2 linked regions of the Homo sapiens genome follow. The protein of the gene in region 2 interacts with the protein of the main gene of each other region in a pairwise test. Each region holds a gene or a part of one and is shown on either strand. Other genes may lie near its edges.

Region 1 (3,810 bases), on a different chromosome or scaffold from region 2:
ACATGCCTGTAATCCCAGCTACTTGGGAGGCTGAGGCAGGATAATTGCTTGAACCCAGGAGGCAGAGGTTGCAGTGAGCCGAGATCGTGCCATTGCACTCCAGCCTGGGCAATAAGAGCAAATCTCCATCTCAAAAAAAAAAAAAAAAAAGAATAAAAAATACGCAAGGTACCAGAGATGCTTCAAAGGCAAGCATTCCCTCCATCCCTGCCCACGGCCCGTGCAACAGCTTGATTTTGATAGGAAACATGGGTAGGCTGCTTCCAGATTCCTTCACTTTACTATTTCAGATCCTACCAGCTTCGCCAAGCTCCTAGATACCACGTGTTACCTATTGTGAATCATGGATCTTGGTGTCCCCATCCTGCATTCGTCTGTTCCAGCTCTGTCACTAAGCTAGTTTGGTGACTTTGGCCAGTTAACCTGCCTGACCTCAGTTTCCTCAGCTGTACACAGGATAATAATAAGCCCAATGCAAAGGTCAAAGAGGGTTTAATGAAATAACATTGAAAGCAAAGCACGAGAAGGGAGCACCAGGAGAGTGGGGCTCTTGTCACGTTCATTGGGTTTCACATTGAGTTCTCCAGAAGCAGAGGCTGAGGCAGTTTGTTGCGTGGGATATTTATTAAAAGTCAGCACATGTGGGAGGGAGAAGGGGAAGGGGAGGCAAAATTGGGCAGAGGGTGAAGTTGAAGGACAGTGCAGCTGGACAAAGCCTCCCTAACCCTAGGAGCCATAAAGGCACGGCCTTTACCCCTGCCATGATCAGCCATTCCATGGCAGTTACCCAGGAAGGGTAAAGGAGCTCCTGTCTCGAGGCTCTGCTCTCAGCATTCATGGTAGCAGGAGCGAGCACCAAGTCCACGGATGAGGATCTCTGTGGCACATCTCCCTCCATGGGGTTTCCTGTCACCAACACCCAGCACACCTGGGAAAGAACAGTCCACATCTTTTGAAGGGCCTGGGAGGTGGTTCAAATAAGGGTTACTGTTGTCTTGCTGAGGTGGACTAGAAATAGAACACAAGCCGCCTGACTGTTGCTTTTGCTTTCACAGATAGCTCGCTGTTGTTTTTGCTTCAGTCCTGGTGGAGAGGGTAAGCAGAGCGCTTTTATTCTTTGCACCTGTGTGGCACTGCAGACCTATAACTCTAATCTGTAGTCATTTGGGATTCAGACACAAATAACTTGAATAGTAAGGAGAAAGTTTTATTCTAAAGCTGACTTACTACTTATACACTTTTCACATTCTTCCTGAAGGATAGCTGAGTTTTGTTTGTGTTGGTATTCTGGTAGAGAGAATCAGTCCAAATTTTGGTTTAAATGTAAGTTAAATTATACAGTGAGATTTAGAGAATCAGAGAGCACATTTTTTAAAAAGGAGTGATTTGGAAAATACCAAGAGGTCCTGACACCTTATTTTGGGGCCATTTCATTCCTTCACCTTACTTTCCAAGGTGGATTGGAGGATTCCAAGGGCTTGAGAACTAACTCTTGTTTTACTCTCACTTTCTGCTGAGCTTATAGTAAGTTTTACGTCTTTAAGGGTTTTTAAGGGTTCTCTTTCTGTTAAAATAAATGTGGCAGGGCAGGCACGGTGGCTTATGCCTGTAATCCCAGCACTTCGGGAGGCTGAGGTGGGTGGATCACCTGAGGTCAGGAGTTCGAGACCAGCCTGGCCAACATGGCAAAACCCTGTCTCTACTAAAAAACAATACAAAATTAGCCGGGCGTGGTGGCGTGTGCCTGTAATCCCAGCTACTTGGGAGGCTGAGGCAGGAGAATCGCTTGAACCTGGGAGGTGGAGGTTGCAGTGACCCAAGATCATGCCACTGTACTCCAGCCGGGGCAAAAAGAGTGAAACTCCATCTCAAAAAATAAATAAATAAAAATAAATGTGGCATTAGGTAACTCTTCCTGTTACGGAAGTTGCTAGGGTGGAGTGGGGGTTTTGTGCTTAGGGCACAGATTGAAGTTGCCAGAGGGTACAGATGGCTTTCTGGCATCTTTTCTACTGACAGCCCTGTAGAATTAGCGAGCGTGACTTTGCTGAATGGTAAACACACACATTCACTCATTGAGCCTGGGCTCCCTCTGTGCTTCACAGACACTGAAGAGCAGCAGCCGGGGAAGGAGGGACCACGGGTCATTTATGACGAGAAGAAAGGCACCGTCTACATCTACTCCTACTTCCACTTCGTGTTCTTCCTAGCTTCCCTGTATGTGATGATGACCGTCACCAACTGGTTCAAGTGAGTGGCCCATTTGCTTAGGTATTTTTGAAGCAAAGCCTTAAAGTTAAGAGTTAAGTACTGTTCGTGTTTGTTTGTTTGAGAAGGAGTCTCACTCTGTTGCCCAGGCTGGAGTGCAGTGGCACGATCCTGGCTCACTGCAACCTCTGCTTCCCAGGTTCAAGCGATTCTTGTGCCTCAGCCTCCCGAGTAGCTGGGATTACATGCATGTACCACCATGCCTAGCTAATTTTTATATTTTTAGTTGAGACGGGGTTTTGCCATGTTGGCCAGGCTGGTCTTGAACTCCTGACCTCAAGTGATCCACCTGCCTTGGCCTCTCAAAGTGCTGGGATTACAAGCGAGTTCTGAGTTTTAACAGTGGATGGGTATGTTTTAACCCTGGAAACTGGTGATGCTTATGGCAACTTTAAGAAAATGGAAAGTTAGCTCTATATGGACAGTCTGGAAAACATGGTAATGAAGGAAAAATAGGAACTCCTAAGCATTCATCTGCCTTTCAGAAAGAGAAAATATCCCTTTTTTTTCTACTTCAAATTTTGTGTATCTTTTTCCCCATTTTTCTTCATTTTCATTACAAAAATTGGAAACATCTTTTTTTAAAATACAAACTAAATGTGGAATTATGAAAAGTAACAATGTGGTACCCCCCCGCCTCTACTTCCCCCACACAGATAACCACTGCTAGGATGTGTATCCTTCTCCTTTTCTGTGCATTTATAAACCTCTGTAGTTTTTTTTTGTTTTTAGTTGGAGTCTTGCTTTGTCACCCAGGCTGGAGTGCAGTGGCGCAATCTCGGCTCACTGCAACCTCCGCCCCTGGGTTCAAGTGATTCTCCTGCCTCAGCCTTTTGAGTAGCTGGGATTACAGGTGCTGCCACCACACTGGCTAATTTTTTTTTTTATTATTTTTAGTAGAGACGGAGTTTCACCATATTGGCTAGGCTGGTCTCGAACTCCTGACCTTGTGATCCACCTGCCTCAGCCTCCCAAAGTGCTGAGATTATAGGCATGATCCACCATGTCCAGCTAATTTTTTTTTTAACATAAATGTCATTATACATGTTTTCCCCTGGAGGCTTTTTTTTTTTTAACTTGGCAGTACATGATTGACCTGGCCTTCCCTGGCACTACACAGAGGTTCATACTTTTTCTACAGGTCCACAGCTTTGGTTGTATCATAATTTTTTTGACCACTAAGTTAAGCTTAGACATGTAGGCTCATTGTGCTTCCTTTTATCATTCATTCAACAGATGTGCAAGTGGCTCCTATGTGCCACACGGTTCTATGAGGCAGGATTTATAGTCCAGCAGGAGAGACAGACTATGACGCAAGTCAAATATGGTGTGTTAGATGGTGATGAGTATTGGGGAGAAAAATAAAATTAGGAGAGGGAATTGGGGTAGGGGTGGTGGGAGTGGTGGTTTCAAGCACAGTGATTGGAGAGATTCTTCCTGAAGGAGGAGAGGAGAAGGGAGCTTTAATGCTTCCCAGTGATGCTTTGGGAACTCCTGGGAATTTTTGGCTTGGAAAGCTTAAGAAAAGATGGAGAAGGCTAT
Region 2 (4,452 bases):
TTGCTTCTTTAGACAGGGTCCACCCCAGTGCCTGGTGCCTGGGGGTGCTCAGATGGTGCTTGTTGGTTGGTTGAAGGAATGAGTGGGTAAATGGACTGGAAACTGAGGCAGATACTCTGGCTCACCTCTCACTTATGCACACGGGATGCCCCCACCAGCTCACTTTCACACATACCCTCACACCTACACTCAGAGATTCATGTGCATTCACCATCGATTGTCCACCCCTCTTCACCTGCATGCTCCCATGAACTCATACGCTGCCAACCCACACCAGCCTGGGTGAAAAAAAAAAAGAAGAAAGTATGTCCAAATTTGAATCTAATCAAACCTGTTTTCAGAAAATACAGGAGACAGAGGAATAGATTAAAGGACCTCACAAGGAAGCAATCAACCAAGTCCAGAATATAGAACATTCTACTGGACAATGGAGCCAGTTCTCTCCAGAAATCAACCGCATGAACAAAAAAACAAACACAGGGCCAGGCTCAGTGGCTCATGCCTGTAATCCCAACACTTTGGGAAGCTGAGGCGGAAGGATCCCTTGAGCCCAGGAGTTTGAGACCAACCTAGGCAAAACAGGGAGACCCTATCTCTACAAAACACGGTCTCAGGGAGCTTCCACCTCCACCCCCACAGATCTGTTCCCATGGGGTTTCTGGGCTCAATGTTTCTTGGTCTCCAGGGAGGCCCTGCCCTGTCATGCCCCTGACCACAGTGGCTCTTCCGAGCTCCTCTCTTCTCCCTCCACTTTATATCCCAGCGGGCATTCTCTTTCCTCCACTCCCCTTCTTTTATTTTCTCTCTCACCCCCATCCAGAGACGCACAGACCCAAATGTGCACAGGCACATGCTCGCTGTCTGTGTCTTGTCATCTCGTCTTTTGTCTTGGATCTTACCTTGTCTTTGTCCCTGAATCTCCTTGTTCCTCTCATCTCTCCCGGTGTTTACATCTGTCTTTTTCCCTGAGCCTCGCTCCCTCCATCCATTCCTCCGCCCTCTCATTTTTTTTCCCGACTCCCTCCTGCCTCCTCCCTTTCTCCTTTGATTTTCCTGGTCCCTCATCTCTCCTCCCTCCTCTTTCTCACTCTCATGCTCCCTTTTTCGCTCTCTTGAGTACATGCACTTGCTTTCTCTCTCTTGCTTTTCCTCTTTCTCACCTTAGCTCCTGGCCTCGGGCGCTGTCTACACCCCACCCCATCCCTCGCTCTTTGAGAAGCCTCTGTGCAGTGCCCAGGTCCTGGCGGCCCAGCTTGGAAGTTCCTGTGGTACCCCTTGAGAGGCCCTAGGGCCACAGCATTTCCTCCCAGGGGTGACTTGGTAGTGATACGCTCTGTTTCTTCACTTCTGCAATTGCCAGACAGCATAGAGGCTGAGGCTGGGGCCAGGACCCAGACAGAGACACACGGTCACTGCAGCTGAAGCCGCTGCCCCTGCTACAGGTAAGGGGGAATCCTGGCCCCTGCTGGGCAAGGGGGAGGCATATAAAAATGTCCTCAGGAGGCAAACCAAGGTCATGCCCCCAGGCTGCACCTAAGCAGATGGGTGCTTCTATTTCTTTTCTTTTCTTTTTTTTTTTTTTTTTTTTTGAGACAGGGTCTCTCACTCTGTTGTCCAGGCAGAAGTGCAGTGGCGCGATCATGGCTCGCTGCAGCCTGGACCTGCCAGGCTCAGGTGATCCTCCCACTTCAGCCTCCCGAGTATCTGGGACTAGAGGCATGCTCTACCACGCCTGGCTAATTTTTGTATTTTTTGTGGAGACGAGGTCTTGCCTTGTTGCCCAGACTGGTCTCTAACTCCTGGGCTCAAGCAATCAGCCTGCCTCGGCCTCCCAAAGTGCTGGGATTGCAGGCTTGAGTCACTGTGCTCGGCTGCTTCTGTTTTTAAGGGATTTTTCTGGCACCTTTCTCAGGCCCAGAGTCTCATGTTTAGAAATAACTTCTAGTGTCCAAACATTCCTGGAGAACCCAACACCCAAGTTTGGCTTTTCTGAGGCTGGGGCAGTGCTGACCCCAGAGATCCCACTGGGAGGTGTTGATGGTGGTGATGGTGGCAGTGCTGACCCCAGAGACCCTACTGGGAGGTGGTGATGGTGGTGATGGGGGCAGCTTGGATCTCAGGGAGCCAAATGACATCTACTTGACTAGCTGTGTGGTCTTGGCCAAGTTACGCTCCATCTCTGTGCAGTTTTCTAAATTGTCAAATAATGATAATCCCATCTCCCCCACAGAATTGTCGGGTCATATAAAGGATCTGGTACAGGGCGGGGTACTTAGGAACTCACTAAATGCTAGGTTTGCGGGGTGGGGAAGGGGGTGCTGAAAATAACCAGGTTCTTATACACAGGGCCAAGCCCACAAACAATAGCCCCTATCAGGTCCCAGGTGCTGGGGACAGGGCCCAGGCTGGCACCCACCGTCCTCTGCTTGCAGGAGGTCCAGACATGGGGCTGTGCACTCACTCACTTGTGAAATATGACAGAACCAGCAGGCTCTCTCCCCACACCTCTGGCTGCTCTCCTTTAGCTCTGACTGAATACCCAGCTGTGTTCCAGGTGTTTGGGGTGGTGTGTGTGTTGGGGGAGGCGGTAGGGGTGGGAGGTGTGTTGGGGAGTGCTAGAGAAGCAAAAGAGACACCACTATCTTTAGGTGCTGACAAACCGCCGGAGAAAGAGTTCAGCCCCTTAGATGACTGGGTCCTGGGCCTCAGGTGGGCATCCGGGGTTTCGATCTCAGCTCCTGCTGACAAGCCGGGGCCTTGAGTTGTTCGGAAGTTCCACTTTCCTCCTTTGCAGATTGCAGGTTAAAATACTGACCTCTGTGGGCCGGGCATGGTGGCTCACGTCTGTAATCCCAGCACTTTAGGAGGCCGAGGCGGGTAGATCACGAGGTCAAGAGATGGAGACCATCCTGGCGAACATGGTGAAACCCCATCTCTACTAAAAATACAAAAATTAGCTGGGCGTGGTGGCGGGTGCTACTCGGGAGGCTGAGGCAGGAGAATTGCTTGAACCTGGGAGGCGGAGGTTGCAGTGAGCTGAGATGGCGCCATCGCACTCCAGCCTGGGCAACAGAGCGAGACTCCGTCTCAAAAAACAAAACAAAACAAAACAAACAAACCACTGATCTGTGAGTTTGCAGGGAGGATGAAGTAAGAGTTGGGATGGGGAAGTGCTTTGTCAATTGGAAAATGCTGCGCAAAGGGGACTGATGAATTCCCTCTAATGCTGACTCTGGGATTCCTGCTGTTAAACGCCTTAGGGATGAGGAAACTGTTTTGTTCACTGTTGTATCCTTTATCCTTAGCACAGGGTTTGCAACATAGCATATGCTTAGAATATGCACAGGACAGATGAATGATGAAGCGGTTTTTGCAGTTGGAAGGGAACGGACGGTGAGCCAGAGGCCCAGTATCTGGTCCCAGCTCTGCCCCTGACACTGTGTTCACCTTGGGAAAATCCTTTCTCATCTCCGGGCCTCAGTTTCCCCATCTGGTCATTGAAGGAGTAAGGAATTCACAGTTTATGCTATCAGTGACAAAATGTGCCTACAGGACTGAGTTTTCTCTGACTGGTGGTGGGAAGCAGGTATGAGGAGAGGCTGGGATCTTATTGTCCTTTTACAGGGAGCAGAGATTCCCCACTTCCCACCCCAGGCCTGTGAAGGAGGCCTTGTTGAAGAGGATGGCATTCTCTTTCTTGGTGGCATCCCCCACTTTCCTGTTCTGATCCCCTAGATGGGTGGAGGCTTGGACCTCAGAGAGGGCAACAGTGGAGCAGGAGCCGGCAGCACCCCTTGATGGGCCTAGGGGTGTGTGTCTGGGTCGGGAGCAGAGCCAGCTCCCAAAGGGCAAGTGCTGGGACCCTGCTGCAGCCCCCTCTCTGACCACCCCCTCTTGGGCTCCTTGACAGCATGATGAGAGCGGGGAGAAGCCTCTGGTGTGTCTTTGTGTGTGCATGTGTGTCTGTGGTTATGTGGGGTGGACAGGGAGCTGGCTCTGGCTATGTCTACATGTATCTGGAATGATGGGCCGGGAGCATATCCGGGCTGCATGTGGCCTGCTCCAGCCAGACAGCTCCCCTCCCAGGAGCAGATGGCCAGCAAAGCCAGCTGAGAGGCTGATATGCCTCTGTGTGTCTTTGGCCGAGGGGAATCACAGCCAGATTCTGTGTGTGTATTTGTTTGTGTGTTTGTGTGTGAGAGAGAGACAGAATATGCAGGGGGAGGATCACCACTCAGCCACCCCTCCCCACCCCCTTGGTTCTGTAGGTGGGAGATCTTCAGGGCCTGGGTTTGGAGTTGAGCTTGGCTGGCTAATGGGAGAAGCATGTCAAAACCAAATTTGTGCATACCCCGCCCCCCCTCCTCTTTTTTTTTTTCTTTTGAGACAGAGTCTTGCTCTGTCACGCAGGCTGGAATGCAGTGGCGTGATCACACCTCACTGCAGCCTCGA

Evidence for each region.
Region 1: the proteins of PTAFR (region 2) and SERINC5 interact in a two-hybrid assay, tested with the Homo sapiens proteins (one large-scale study listed by BioGRID and IntAct).

The regions. Positions count from the first base shown.
Region 1 is NC_000005.10:80,144,530-80,148,339, reverse strand, and holds part of SERINC5 (serine incorporator 5), read left to right. Parts: intron 1-1,055; coding exon 1,056-1,095; intron 1,096-2,105; coding exon 2,106-2,250; intron 2,251-3,810.
Region 2 is NC_000001.11:28,173,582-28,178,033, reverse strand, and holds the start of PTAFR (platelet-activating factor receptor), read left to right. Parts: upstream 1-1,343; 5' UTR 1,344-1,442; intron 1,443-4,452. UniProt on the Homo sapiens protein: Receptor for platelet activating factor, a chemotactic phospholipid mediator that possesses potent inflammatory, smooth-muscle contractile and hypotensive activity.